Homo sapiens: one gene and its partners. The protein of the gene in region 3 purifies or fractionates together with the protein of the main gene of each other region. This does not show direct contact. Each region holds a gene or a part of one and is shown on either strand. Other genes may lie near its edges.

Region 1 (5,130 bases), on a different chromosome or scaffold from region 3:
GAGACGGGGGAGGAGAGGAGAAGGGGGGAAGAGAGGGGAGGGGGAAGATGGGGGAGGGAGAGGTGGGGGAAGAGAGGAGGAGAGGGAGGAAAAGAGGAGAAGGGGGAGGGGGCAGGAGAGGAGGAGAGCGGGGAGGAGAGGAGGAGAGGGAGGGAGAAAGGAGGAGGACAGGGGATAGAGGAGGAGGAGGAGAGAGGAGAGGAAAAGAGGAGAGGAGGAGGAGATGGGGGAGGAGGAGAAGGGGGAGGAGAAAAGCAGGGGAGAGGGAAGAGGAGGGGGAAAGTAGGGGGAGAGGAGGGATAGAGAAGAAGCAGTGGGGGGAGGAGGGAGAGGAAGAGGAAAAGAGGAGGAAGAGGAGGGTGGGAGGAGAAGATGGGGGAGGAGAGGAGAAGATGGGGGAGGAGAGGAGAAGATGGGGGAGGAGAGGAGGGGGAGGGGGTAGAGGAAGAGGCAGGAGAGTCAGTAGAATGAAGGAAGGCAGGCAGAAAGGGAGAAAGAGAAGTCAGTACACCGTTTTCAGATATTTGAGATTTACTTAATACTCATAAAAACACCAACTTTGCTTCTCCTTCTTCCCCCATCACACTCCACTTACCTTAGAAAAATATTGTTAATCTGTTTTCGGATAAATGCTCTAAGACCAAGAAACTTGCCATAAATTCTGTGTAAGACTGTTTTTAAGTAGTCCCGTTCCCGAGGGTCTTCGCTGTCAAATAGCTCCAGAAGCTGTTGTAAATGAAAGACATTATAGCTGTCAAAGGCGGTTTCAGAAAAGGATTTAGGAATTCTATTATTTAAAATCCCCTTCTTCCTTCCTCAAAAAATGTGTTGAATATCTATTATGTGCCAAGCACAGTGCTAGTCTTTGGGCATATCATGATAAACAAGTCAGACAAGGAGCTTATATTCCACTAAAGAAATACAAATACAAAATAACAACAATAAAAGTAATAATATGAATAATAGCTAATACACATATGGCACTTACTGTGATCATCAGGCAATTTTCCAAGCAATCTACATATTAATCCTCCCAATGAGATAGTTTTGTCCCCCTTTTACAGAAGAGGAAACTGGGGCACATAGGGTTAAGTAACGTGCCCACGGTCTCACAGCTAATAGGTGGTAAAGCTAGAATTTGAACCCCAGCAGTTGAGGCCAAAAGTCCGTAGCTCAACCACTGCACTATGCTACCTACTGATATTCCAAATATGCAGTTAAAATAAGCTGACTGCCTGTGGTGACTCATGCCTGTAATCCCAGCACCTGGGGAGGCCAAGGCAGGCGCATCACCTGAGGTCAGGAGTTTAAGACCAGCCTGGCCAACATGGTGAAACCCCGTCTCTAGTAAAAATACAAAAATTAGCCAGGTGTGGTGGCGGGCACCTGTAATCCCAGCTACTCAGAAGGCTGAGGCAGGAGAATCACCTGAACCCAGGAGGCAGAGGTTACAGTGAGCTGCGATCGCGCCATTGCACTCCAGCCTGGGCCATAGAGCAAGATTCGGTCTTTAAAAAAAAAAAAAAAAAAAAAAAAAAAAGGATAAGCCTTCAGCTCTACTAGAACATCTAGGAAAATGAAAAAACCTGAATCAAAACAAACATCAAAATGTCTCAATGATACTGGCAATGGTCCTTTTTAGATCCAGACTCTTGTTATGTAGGTGTGCTCACTCTGTAAATAGTCAACGAAGTGAACATTGATTATTTCTGTTGTATGTTATATGTGAATAACTTTTTTTTTTTTTTTTTGAGATGGAGTATTGCTCTGTTGCCCAGGCTGGAGTGCAGTGGCACGATCTCAGCTCACTGCAACCTCCGCCTCCTGTGTTCAAGCAAGCAATTCTCCTGTCTCAGCCTCCTGAGTAGCTGGGACTAAAGGCACCTACCACCGTGCCCAGCTAATTTTTTGTATTTTTAGCAGAGACAGGGTTTCACCATATTGGTCAGGCTAGTCTCAAACTCCAGAACTCAGGTGATCCACCCACCTCAGCCTCCCAAAGTGCTGGGATTAGAGGTGTGAGCCACCATGCCTGGCTGTGAATAACATGTTTAAGTTCCCAAACATTTGTAATCTAAAGTTAATAACCAAATCCTGATAACATCACATCTACATGCTCAAAATGAGGTCCACGCAACTAGTCCAAAAGAGGTAACAAGCTAAAGTTTCAGCCAAATGCCAGTGAGCACAACAGATTCAACTCAATCTCTATCAAAAGTTCTAGCTGCTTTGTTTTTGTATCATTGACAAGTTGATCCTAAAATTCATATGGAAATGCAAGAGAACCAGAAGAGCCAAAATACTCTTGAGGGAAACAAAACTTGAAAGATTCACACTTCTCTATTTCAAAACTTAGTCCAAAATACCAAGACAGTGTGGTACTGGCATAAAGACAGACATACAGATTAATGGAATAGAATTAAGAGCCCAAAAGTAAGCCCTCACATTTATGGTCAACTGATTTTCAACAAGAATGGTCAATAAACCATGAAAAGTGCTCTATTTTATTGATCATTACAGAAAAGCAAACCCTGGCTCACGCCTGTAATCCTAGCACTTTTGGAGGCCGAGGGGGTAGATCACGAGGTCAGGGGTTTGAGATCAGCCTGGCCAACATGGTGAAATCCTGTCTCCACTAAAAATACAAAAATTAGCCAGGCGTGCTGGCACATGCCTGTAATCCCAGGTATTCGGGAGGCTGAGGCAGAAGAATTGCTTGAACCTGGGAGGTGGAGTTTGCAGTGAGCCGAGATCGCGCTGCTGCACTACAGCCTAGGCAACAGAGGAAGACTCCATCTCAGAAAAAAAGAAAAGAAAAGAAAACCCAACCAACAAAGAGATACTCATTGGATGGCTATAATGAAAAAGAGGGATAATAAAAAGTGTTGGCGAGGATATGGAGAAACTGGAACCCTCATACATTGTTGGTAAGAATGTAAAATGGTGCAGCTATTTCAGAAAACAGTTTGGCAGTTCCTTAAATCTCCCACAGAGTTACTATATGACTAAGCGATTCCACTTTCATGTATATATCCAGCAGAACCGAAAACACATGTCCACACAAAAACTTGTACACAGATGTTCATGGGAGCAATATTCATAATAGCTAAAAACTGAAACAACCCAAATATCCGTCAACTGATAAACAAAATGGGATGCCATGGAATATTATTCAGCCATAAAAAGGAACAAAGTAACTGATACATGTTACAACATCAATGAATCTTTCAAACATCATGCTAAGTAAGTAAAAGAAACCAGACACAGAAGGCCATACAATGTATGACTCCATTTATGTGAAATAAGCAGAATAGGCAAATCCATAGTGACAGAAAGTAGAATGGGGAGTGGCTACTAATAGGTCTGGATTTCTTTCTTTTTTTTTTTTTTTTTTTTTTTTTTTTTTTTGAGACAGAGTCTTGCTCTGTCACTAGGCTGGAGTGCAGTGGCGCTATCTCGGCTTACTGAAACCTCCGCCTTCCGGGTTCAAGCGATTCTCCTGCTTCAGCCTCCTGTGGGTCTGGATTTCTTTGAGGGATGATAAAAACATCCTGCAATGATACTGTGGTGATGGTTGCATGACTCTGTAAACATACTAAAAACCACTAAATTGGAAACTTTAAAATGGTGAATTTTATGGTGTATGAATTACAACACAATAAATCTGCTACCTTTACAAAAAGTCAGTGTGCAAGTTCCTCTGGCTGAAGAACAAACTTGGAAATTGGTTTGAATGTTACTGAGTTGTTTTTTTTAACATTCATCATCATTGCAATAAAGCAAAATTCAGTTCTAGTGTCTTTACAGCAAAACATTTCAAGAGCACATAACACACAAATTAGACTACCATCGTCATCAAAAAGGCTATCCAGATATATGTAAGTTTGACCTCAGGTGATTTAGACATGAGGTTGACACTGACAGCAGAATAAAAACCTCATGGTCAATAATCGAATGTGCTTTTGTTCGGTGTTTTAATTTGAATAAAAGACAAGAGTTATGGACCAAAAAAAGGCCCCTCAAACATGGCAGGAAACGCAAACTAAAGGATGGTCTTCAAAAATAGGTAGAGACAGGACACAATTTTTAGCTACATAATGCCATCCACCATCCATCTATCATTCATTCATCTGTTCATTTTAAAAATGAGTATTTCAAGTAAATATTTATGGTGTGCTTATTAAAAGCCAGCCAGTGGGCGAGCTGTCAGGGATACAATGATAAGCAAGACAGATACAGTCTTTGCTTTCTCAGAGCCTATTCTAATGGGGAATACAAACAAGTAAATAAACAGCATGTTAAGTAGTTCAGGATGTTGTATAAATACACAGCAGACACATCTACTGTATTTGGAAGAAGTGGAGTGATCAGCAAAGGCTTCTAAAGGAAGAGACATCCAGGCTGACCGATGAAGAAATGAGGAGTTAGAAGTGGGATATGAGTGCTCCTCACAGGTTCAATAGTACATGCTTTTCCTAGCAGCCTATCCAAACAGAAGATGTTGTTAACTACAGCTCTCTGCCCATTCAGCAATACAATAAATACATACGTACTGAGTTCTTTCTATGTGCCAGCGATGGTCCTCATTGCTGGACATACACATTGTTGAACAATTTTGGAGCCCATCAGGGGAGGTAATGGGCAAGTTAATACATTTCCACAGGAAAACATTCTATCTAGGAAAGAAAGGCATGTGGCCCCAACCAGCCAAAAAAAAAAGGCCCCATATAGACTCAGTATCTCTTTATCTATAACATGTTCCAAATGACATAAGACCTCTAATCCACCTACCCAATCCACCCATCCACCCATTCCCATTCCAAGGTTAATAGAAATAATTAACCTTGTAAGTTTTATTTTTTAAATTTCGTTTCTACTTTTAAGTGTTTCAAAAGGCTTTAATGAATAACTTGTAACCAACATAAGAGAAGGTTTGAGGGTGTGTAGTATTAGCAAAACTTGAATCAACCTTCCTTGTATACTGTTAATCTTGAGTTTAATGAATACACAATAATTAAGCAAGAAATGTTTGATGTTTTCATTAGGCTCTCAACAAAATGCATTGCCGAGTGCCTAACTTTAGATATTTACAAAGCCACAAATATTAAATGTATCATATTCTATGAGAAA
Region 2 (5,130 bases), on a different chromosome or scaffold from region 3:
ATAAAATTTAATCACAACATTCCACCCTCGCAAAATGCACCATTTCTTCCTCTCAATGCCTACCTACGCCTTTCCCCTTCAAAACCCAACTCCAATGCCATTTCCTCAAAAAAAGGCTTTTTTATCATGGCTGAGTCAATACCAGCAAGCACTCCCCCTCCCCGAACTCTTCCAGCAACAGCTACATATAAAAAGTCCCTGACAATAAATCTGCTCTCCACGACCTACATTCCTACATAGCTCTACAGACTGCTCTGCAGTTGTTTAAAATTCATTATTCAGCCGGGCCCGGTGACTCATGCCTGTAATCCCAGCACTTTGGGAGGCTGAGATGGGTGGATCACCTGAGGTCAGGAGTTCGAGACCAGCCTGTCCAACATGGTGAAACACCCTCTCTACTAAAAATACAAAAAAAATTATGGCCAGGCGTGGGGGCTCACGCCTGTAATCCCAGCACTTTGGGAGGCCAAGGCGGGCAGATCACTTGAGTCCAGGGGTTCGAGACCAGCCTGGCTAACATGGCAAAACCGTGTCTCTACAGAAAATACAAAAATTAGCCAGGCGTGGTGGCAGGCGCCTGTAGTCCCAGTTACTCGGGACAGTGAGGCAGGAGAATCACTCAAACCTGGGAGGCGGAGGTTGCAGTAAGCGGAGATCATGCCAGTCTGGGTGACACAGCGAGACTCTGTTTAAAAAAAAAAAATTAGCTGGGCATGTTGGTGGCGGGCACCTGTAATCCTAGCTATTTGGGAGGCTGAGGCAGGAGAATCGCTTGAACCTGAGAGGCAGAGGTTTCAATGAGCCAAGACTGTGCCGCTGCACTCCATCCCAGGTGACAGACTCCGTCTCAAAAAAAATTAAATTAAATTAAATTAAATACTCAACTGCCATCAACACCAAATACCATGTTTACGTTTTGTTTTATTGAAACAGGGTCTCATTCTGTGAACCCAGATTGAAGGGCAGTGGCAAGATCAGGGCTCGCTGCAGCCTCAACCTCCCAGGTTCAAGTGATCCCGCCACCTCGGCCTATTGAGTCCTGGGACTATAGGTGCACACCACTGCACCTGGCTGATTTATGGGTTTTTTTTTTTTTTTGTAGACACAGGGTCTCACTATGTTGCCCAGGCTCATCTCCAGCTCCTGGGCTCAAGCAATCTTCCTGCCTCTGCCTCCCTCAAAGTGCTGGGTTTACAAATCCCATCACTTTGGGAGGCCAAGGTGGGTAGATCACCTGAAGTCAGGAGTTCGAGACCAGCCTGGCCAACATGGTGAAACCCCATCTCTACTAAAATTACAAAAATTAGCCGGGCGTGGGCTGGGCACGGTGGCTCACACCTGTAATCCCAGCACTTTGGGAGGCCGAGACAGGCAGATCACGAGGTCAGAAGACCGAGACCATCCTGGCTAACAAGGTGAAACCCTATCTCTACTAAAAATATAAAAAATTAGCTGGGCATGGTGGCGGGCGCCTGTAGTCCCAGCTACTCGGGAGGCTAAGGCAAGAGAATGGCGTGAACCCGGGAGGTGGAGTTTGCAGTGAGCCGAGATGGCGCCACTGCATTCCATCCTGGGCAACAGAACAAGGGTCTGTTTCAAAAAGAAAAAAAAAAAAAATTAGCCGGGAGTGGTGGCAGGCGCCTGTAATCTCAGCTACTCGGGAAGCTGAGGCAGGAGAATCGCTTGAACCCGGGAGGCGGAGGTTGCAGTGAGCCGAGACCGCACCATTGCACTTCAGCCTGGACGAAAGAGCGAGACTCCGTCTCAAAAAAAAAAAAAAAAAAAGAAATACCCAAGTGGGCACAAAAATGATACACATTCAGCAGGGCACGGTGCCTCACGCCTATAATCCCAACACTTTGGGAGGCCAAGGCGGGCAGATCACGAGGTCAGGAGATTGAGATCATCCTGGCTAACATGGTAAAACCCCGTTTCTACTAAAAATACAAAAAAAAAAAAAAAAAAATTGGCCGGGAGTGGTGGCGGGTGCCTGTAGTCCCAGCTACTCGGGAGGCTGAGACAGGAGAATGGTGTGAACCCGGAAGGTGTAGCTTGCAGTGAGCCGAGATCGCGCCACTGCACTCCAGCCTGGGTGACAAGAGTGAGACTCTGTCTCAAAAAAAAAAAAAAAAAAAGATACACATTCACAGCAGCATTGTCCATCTACTTCCCTCAAGTTCCACAAACACCACTCTAGTCTGAGCCACCATCGTTTCTCTCCGACAAAACTACAGCAGGCTGGACGCAGTGGGTCACACCTGTAATCCCAGCACTTTAGGAGGGCAAGGCATGAGGATCACTTGAGCCCATGAGTTCGAAACCAGCCTGGGCAACAAAGTAAGACTCCATCTGTACAAAACAAAAAAAAATTAGCTGGGTGTGCCAGGCGCGGCGACTCACGCCTGTAATCCCAGCACTTTGGGAGGCCAAGGTGGGAGGACCATGAGTTCAGGAGATGGAGACCATCGTGGCTAACACGGTGAAACCCCGTCTCTACTAAAAATACACAAAATTAGCCGAGGCGGTCGGATCACTTGAGGTCAGGAGTTCGAGACCAGCCTGGCCAATATGGTGAAACTCCATCTCTACTCAAAATACAAAAATTAGCCAGGCGTGGTGGCACGTGCCTGTAGTCCCAGCTACTCGGGAGGCTGATCCTAGAGAACATCATCCTTGCTCCCATCCTTGCTCCCACCTTAGGACCTTGGCATTAGTGCTTCCCATTGCTTCTTCCCTCAACTTCTTAAGGGACACATTCTTTAGGTCTCAGCTCAATTGTCACCTCCTTAGAGAAGTCCATACTGGCCACCTAATTTAAAATAGGTCCACATCCTCTTCTATCTCGAATTATGCTACTTGTTTTTGTTTTGATTAAGATGGGGTCTGTGTTGCCCACTGTTTTGATTGAAATGGGGCCTCACTAAGTTGCCCAAGCTAGTCTCAATTGCCTGGCTCAAGTGATCCTCCAACCTCAGCCTCCCCAGTAGCTGGGATCACAGCCACACACCACTGTGCTAAGCTACACTACTTGTTTATATGTTTACTGCCCCCTCCTCCATTAGAATGTAAACTCCAGAAACCACTGTATCACTAGAACCAGTAACTTCCTTGGCATTTAGGACATACTGTTACTCAAATGGCTGTGAATTAATAGACACACCAAAACAAACCTGTGTCCATCAGCAGAATTATAGAAATCTGGTACATAATAAAATAATAATGGCCAACATTTATCTAACACTTACTATGTGCCAAGCACTGTTCTACTAAGCTCTTTGTATGTATTATGTCATTTAATTCCCATGACAATCTAATGGGCTGGCACTTTGTTACCCCTCTTTTGCAGCTGAGAAAACAGGCACAAAGAAGGTAACTTCTGGCCAGGCGCAGTGGCTCATGCCTGTAATCCCAGCACTTAAGGAGGCTGAGGCGGGTAGATCACCTGAGGTCAGGAGTTCAAGACCACCCTGGCCAACATGGCGAAACCTGGTCTCTACTAAAAATACAAACATTAGCTGGGCGCGGTAGCAGGCGCCTGTAATCCCAGCTACTTAGGAGGCTGAGGCAGGAGAATTGCCTGAACCCGGGAGGCAGAGGTTGCAGTGAGTCTAGATCACGCCATTGCACTCCAGCCTGGGCAACAAGAGAGAAATTCCGTCTCAAAAAAATAAAAAAATAAAATACACACACATAGGCCGGGTGTAGTGGCTCACGCCTGTAATCCCAGCACTTTGGGAGGCCGAGGTGGGCAGATCACTTGAAGTGAGGAGTTTGAGACCAGCCTGGCCAACATGGTAAAACCCCGTCTCTACTAAAAATATAAAAATCAGCCAGGTGTGGTGGCACGCGCCTGTAATCCGAGCTACTCCAGAGGCTAAGGCAGGAGAATCGCTTGAACTCAGGAGGCGGAGGTTGCAGTGAGCCAAGATTGTGCCACTGCACTCCAGCCTGGGCGACAGAGTGAGAGTCCATCACAAAAAAAAAAAAAAAACAACACACACACACACACACACACACAATCAGCTGAGTGTTACGGCATACGCCATGCACACACAAAATTAGCTGAGTGATATGGCATACGCCTGTGGTCCCAGCTACTTGGGGGCTGAGGCGGGAGAATCCCTTGAACCCGGGAGGTGGAGGTTGCAGTGAGCTGAAGATCACGTCACTGCGTCACTGCACTCCAGCCTGGGTAACAGAGCGAGAAAAAAAAATTTTAGTTGTAATTGTCAACTATCAATAAAAACTCCAGAAACTTGGCCTCAATTTAAGCAACCAAATCTGCTCTAGGAAGCTGCTTCTTTACTTTATTTTATTTTATTTATTTATTTTTGAGACAGAGTTTCGCTCTTGTCACCCAGGCTGGAGTGCGATAGTGTGACCTTGGCTCACTAAAACCTCTGCCTCCTGGATTCAAACAATTCTCCTGCCTCAGCCTCCCAAGTAGTTGGGATTACAAGCACCCACCACCACACCTGGCTAATTTTTTTTGTATTTTTAGTAGAGACGGTCACCATGTTGGCCAGGCTAGTCTCGAACTCCTGACCTCAGGTGATCCACCCACCTCGGCCTCTCAAAGTCCTGGGATTACAGGCTGAGTCACTGTGACGGCCTTTACTCTCTTTTAATCCACAACAGTCCCTTCACTTATTTTTCCCATGAAACTGACTTTTGGAAGAGAAGTAGGATAACTGTCTTATAAAATGCCCCACAATTTGTACATTTTATCAGCCTGCCCATTTCCAGGGCTTCTGTTTCATAAAGGAACTCCAGTCTCCAGAGTTCTCCTATCCCACCTAGAACCCTCCTATCCCACCTAGAGCCCTCTTAGAGGCAAGTCAATTTGCTCTGTGGAGCCTCCTTCCTCATCTGAACAGAGAAGGAAATCACTGCCCTTCCGACTCCAGAGAGCTGCTATAAGACTCAGGTGAAGGCCGGGGGCTGTGGCTCATGCCTGTAATCCCAGCACTTTGGGAGGCCAAGGCGGGCGGATCACCTGAGGTCAGGAGTTCACAGCCTGACCAACATGGAGGAATCCCGTCTCTACTAAAATACAAAATTAGCCGGGCATGGTGGCACACGCCTGTAATCCCAGCTACTTGGGAGGCTGAACCAGAAGAATTGCTTGAA
Region 3 (5,130 bases):
AATGAAACTATTCAGATAGTATAGTTAGGATTTAGATAGAAAGCTTTAGATCATTTTTGGAAGCTCATTTCCTTCCTATCTGAAGCTTTTAGATGGGTTGTATAAAACTGCTAATACTTGACCATTTTTGAATGGTCACAGAAGTGACAATTTCATATGATTTAACCTGATGATTTTTAAAAGGAATTGTTTATTTAGAAGAGTCTTGTAAATAACTGAATACACAATAACAAAATGTTATTTCAATTACTAATTTTAGACAAAAGCGAAAAGAAAAACGCAAGAGGAAAAAATTAGAGCGACAATGTCAAATGGAACCAAACTCAGATGGACATGACAGAAAACGTGTTCGAAGAGATGTTGTTCATAGCACCCTTCGCCTTATTATTGACTGTAGTTTTGATCACTTGATGGTATTAAAGGTATCATGAATCATTGTCAGAAAAATCTTGTATGTGAATTAGGTCGAATCATTTTTGTTTTAATATGCAATATCCCTTTTATGTAAATTTGTGTATTGAAATGAATCTTCAGTTTTTCAAACTTTCCCCTAAGTTAAATTAGCTAGCAAATTGCATTGATATAATAAATATGTGTATTTATATATGTGTGTATGTGTGTGTGTCAGTATGTGTGCAGACAGGAAAGAGAGACAAACACACACTTTGTAGTCTAGATGACAGAACTAAATTAACTACTTATTGATCATAAAGATCTGTGGGGTTTTACCAGTGTTGTTGGTAAAACATGAAAATAGTAATAGTATGGCTCTAAAAGTCTTGTTGTTGTCTCTTTAGAGAGTAGCCGTTTTCATGAACTAGCATTTTAAATAAATACAAAATATGAAATAATGGGTCACTTACAGAGCATTAACTTACAGTAATTTTGCTAGTATGTAAGGAAATCAAATAACATTTATCAGAATGCATTTGTATTTAAGAAGAAAAATTGTATGTATATAGTCATCCCTTCTGCTTATTCCATTCCTTTAAGATCATAGAATGGCCATAGACAATTTTAATAACTTTGCTTTAAAAATTGAACTCTGTGATAGGACATTAAGAAACTTCATAAGCAGATTCAACGATGTTACGCAGAAAACCGACGGGCACTGCATCCTGTGCAGGTATGTGTAAAGATTTTAAAGCAGACTCTAGTTTTCTTTTATGTCTTTTGTGGCAAAAGACATAGATAATTCCTATAGTCTTTGCAGTAGTCTTACAGGTAATCTTGTTTAATGCCTATGTGAAAAAAATTTTTTTGACAGAAATGAAGCAAAATATTTTAAACATCTTTTAATATGTTATCTTAGACACACTCTTTCCAGTAATCATCAGTCTTATACAAATTGGCCTTTTCATTGCCTGTAGTTGATATCTTCATTGTGGGACATACATATATTTTTATACCAGTTTTTCAGTTTACAATTACTTCCAGTGTGGGAGAGAGATTGGACAGAGAGGCAGAAGCTGTGGCTGCCACCGCTTGACATATGTCGTGGTATCTGTTGTATAGATTTTGTCTACTTAAAGGTTTTTAGTTTTCTTTTGGGTCACTGAGAGTTTTGACAGGTCTTTTTTAAGCTGAGGTGAGGGAGTGATTTGGGAGACTATTTGGCTACTGTTAAGAATAACATCTTTCTGTTGGAATTCTAGGTGACCTAAAAATTAATACTGGCTCACTGATGTTAAGAACCAGGAACTATTAATATATTTTGGTTAGATATTTTGTTTTTACCAAGTGATAGTAATTTTGTATTTTTGTTTTTTATACTTTTTGTTTTATAGTCTCATATCACACTTCTGTGATAGTCCTTTTATCCCCATTTTTATCTGTAGTAGACCCCTTCTCACCCTTGATTCAAACTTAAATAGGTGTCAGGGTTTAGAATCAAAGAAAAATTATGAAGACTTTGTATTGTTTTAAAAAAAAGAGGAGTGGGAACTTGACATGGAAGCAGGGAGTTTGTAGACAAGTGATGATTAAGGTACAGGCATGTTATAACTACTTGGGATGAAAATGTAAATGGGATACTGCAGCTACTGGGTTATGAAACATGCACACAAAACGTACTATTTCTACCACAGTTTATTGTTTGCTCAAAGCATGTCACAAATTTTTTTTCTAGATGAATGAGAATAAATATATTTTGTGTTTCATTGATCGTCAGATAAGTAGATGAGAGAAATAAAATATTAGACTTAAATGGTCATTTGTTCTCTTTTTCTATACTTACAAATCTTTTATCAGTTTTACTTGACAAGCCACGGAGGCCAGCTGAAAAAGAACATGGATGAAAATGACAAAGGATGGGTCAACTGGAAGGTAATTAAAACAGATAAACTCTCACATAATTCCAAGTATTTTTATGTTTCTAAAGGTCTACATTTTGTACCTAAATTCTATATAATGCTACTTAATACAACAATCTCCAGATGCAATCTCTGAACCTAAGTCTAAGATTACAAATCAGAGATGCTGAAGAAGGGAGTGAGACATCTGGTAGCTTGTATTTGTTCTCATTAAATCTTCCCTATTTTATGGTCAACTTTTAAAACGTATTTTTAAAAAGAAATAATTTTAAGGGCCTTTATATCATTTCTCCCTAACATACTAGCTATACATTATATGTTACCTATAAAAATGAAGTCACTCTAAATTTTGGAAGTGTGCCTGCATTCTGTTTCTTCTTACTCTGTGCTGGCCACTATCCACATGTGGCTATTGAACTTGAAATGTGACAGTCTGAATTGTGAATTGAGATGTGCTATGAATGTGAAATACATACTGGATTTCAAAGACTCAGTACCACAAAAGAGAAAGAATGTGAATATCTCCTAGGTAATTTTTAAAATATTTATTATATGTTTAAATGATAAACTTTTGGGTATACTGTATTAATAAAATAAATTGTTAAAATTAATTTCACCTATTTTCACTTTTTAAAATTTGGATACTAGAATATTTAAAATTGCCTATGTGGCCTCACAGTTTTTTCTATTGGACCAAATTGTTCTCAGTCATTGGTAAAGGTGACTAAATAGATTGGCCTTGGTACCAGTCCCTGAGGAACTTGATCCTATTTAGGGAAGTACTGGGTTATCCCTATACCTTTTTTCTTTCTCAAAGTCAGTTCTCTCAGTGACACACTTTCCCTTTCACACTCACTAATTCCATAACAAAGGCATTTATTTTATTAATAGCCTATGATATGAAACATTTTCAAAGGCTTTTAAGTTTTTAAGTACAGTATATTTACCAAATCCTGTATTTGTGCCCATTTTTCCAAGAACTAGTGTAATAAATTAAAAGAGGCATGTTTTCAGTTATTTTGCGACTTGTTAAATTTATCATTTATACCATCACCTTTCCAGAGAGACTTGAGATTCATTGGTCTCTAATTAATCAGGTTCCTCTTGGGGCCTTAAATTTGTAATATAACATTTTCCAGAAAACTGGCTATTTATTAATTATACATTTTAGGAGAGAGTTCTTTTGCCTCATTCTTGGTTTCATTAAAAATTATGGATAAATGTCATCTGAGCCTGGTGATACATCTTTTATGCAGTCAATGTGGCTTACAAAATCATGACTGCCAGCTATTGTTCAATTTTGTACCTGTGACCTGACAATTTTGGTGAAGAAGTTTTCAAATGTGTGTCTCTTTGTAGAAACAGATACATGGAATTAATTAAATCTATAAACTATTTCCTTTTCTTTTTTTCTTTCTTTTTTTTTTTTTTTTTTTGAAACGTAGTCGCTTGCACTGTCACCCAGGCTGGAGTGCAATGGTGCAATCTCGGCTCACTGCAACCTCTGCCTCCGGGATTCAAACAATTCTCCAGCCTCAGCCTCCCGAGTAGCTGGGATTACAGGAGCCCGCCACCACACCCAGCTAATTTTTGTATTTTTAGTAGAGACAGGGTTTCACCATGTTGGCCAGGCTGGTCTCGAACTCCTGACCTTGTGATCCACCTGCCTCAGCCTTCCAAAGTGCTGGGATTACAGGCATGAGCCACCGCACGTGGCCAGCTATTTCCCTTTCATGATTCATGTAGATGGAGAGGAAGTAATTGGAGAAGGCATTCTTTGGTCATAGAACAATGTGAGCAAATATGTGGCAGTAAAAATGCGTTTGTTTTGTTGGAACAGAAATAAAGTTGGAAAAGTAGATTACTGCCATATTCAGGAAAGAGTTTTTAAATTAAGGATTTCAGATTTTATCCCACAGAAAAAGATAAAACATTGAAAGTAGTGTTTTTAGAAAATGAGCCTGCTATCAGTGTGTGGAAGTAGGTTGGAGGGGTCTGAGGCCAACAAGGAGGAAATAAAATTAAGAGGCTATTTAAATGATCAAAGTGTGAGATATAAGAAATTGATGTAGTAAATTCAAAATAATGCATTGTAATTATATTATTTCAAACTTTGTTTCATATATTTTTGAATGGATTTGTTTTGGGAAAAGAGAATAATCATTTTTAGCCAACTTTCATAAGGTCTTATTAATTAGTAACCTCTTTCCCTGTTGTCTTAAAGGATATCCATATCAAACCAGAGCACTATAGTGAACTCATAAAGAAAGAAGACCTGATTTACCTTACGTCAGATTCACCTAATATACTGAAGGAATTAGATGAATCAAAGGCCTATGTGATTGGAGGATTAGTAGATCACAACCATCACAAGGTACTATTAAATTTTTATTTTTGCTTTTGCTTGTTCTTAAAATTGATATATCACCATTTCCTGAAAGTAACAATAATACTAATGATAGCTCATCTTTATTGAGTGCCTACTATATGTCAGTCACCTTCTGAGCTAAGCAAAGTATTTCACATAAGTTAGCTTGCTTAATCTTCACTCAACCCAGTGAGATTAGTGCTATTATTATTTACGTTCCACAAGTAAGGAATTCATGGCACAGAGAAATTAAGTCTAAAATCAACAGTAGTAGGTGACAAAGCAGCTATTTGAAACCAGGCTGATTGCTCTGGAGTCCACATGCTTAAATGCTGTCTATGCTTTACTGATAGAAGATTCTGCTGCTAATCAATTGCTAAGCCATTGGAACTTAAACTAGTTTTTAAATATGTTATTTTCATGGGATGTTTTTTCTATTATCTTTCATTT

The links. Proteins that work in one complex are often made in the same cells at the same time.
Region 1: the proteins of TRMT10A (region 3) and PPP2R5E fractionate together in Homo sapiens (co-fractionation; one large-scale study listed by BioGRID). This does not show direct contact.
Region 2: the proteins of TRMT10A (region 3) and SAE1 fractionate together in Homo sapiens (co-fractionation; one large-scale study listed by BioGRID). This does not show direct contact.

The regions. Positions count from the first base shown.
Region 1 is NC_000014.9:63,395,991-63,401,120, forward strand, and holds part of PPP2R5E (serine/threonine-protein phosphatase 2A 56 kDa regulatory subunit epsilon isoform), read right to left. Parts: intron 727-5,130; coding exon 596-726; intron 1-595. UniProt on the Homo sapiens protein: The B regulatory subunit might modulate substrate selectivity and catalytic activity, and might also direct the localization of the catalytic enzyme to a particular subcellular compartment.
Region 2 is NC_000019.10:47,136,592-47,141,721, reverse strand, and holds part of SAE1 (SUMO-activating enzyme subunit 1), read right to left. Parts: intron 1-5,130. UniProt on the Homo sapiens protein: The heterodimer acts as an E1 ligase for SUMO1, SUMO2, SUMO3, and probably SUMO4. It mediates ATP-dependent activation of SUMO proteins followed by formation of a thioester bond between a SUMO protein and a conserved active site cysteine residue on UBA2/SAE2.
Region 3 is NC_000004.12:99,553,341-99,558,470, reverse strand, and holds part of TRMT10A (tRNA methyltransferase 10 homolog A), read left to right. Parts: intron 1-259; coding exon 260-422; intron 423-1,054; coding exon 1,055-1,126; intron 1,127-2,250; coding exon 2,251-2,325; intron 2,326-4,536; coding exon 4,537-4,686; intron 4,687-5,130. UniProt on the Homo sapiens protein: S-adenosyl-L-methionine-dependent guanine N(1)-methyltransferase that catalyzes the formation of N(1)-methylguanine at position 9 (m1G9) in tRNAs. Probably not able to catalyze formation of N(1)-methyladenine at position 9 (m1A9) in tRNAs.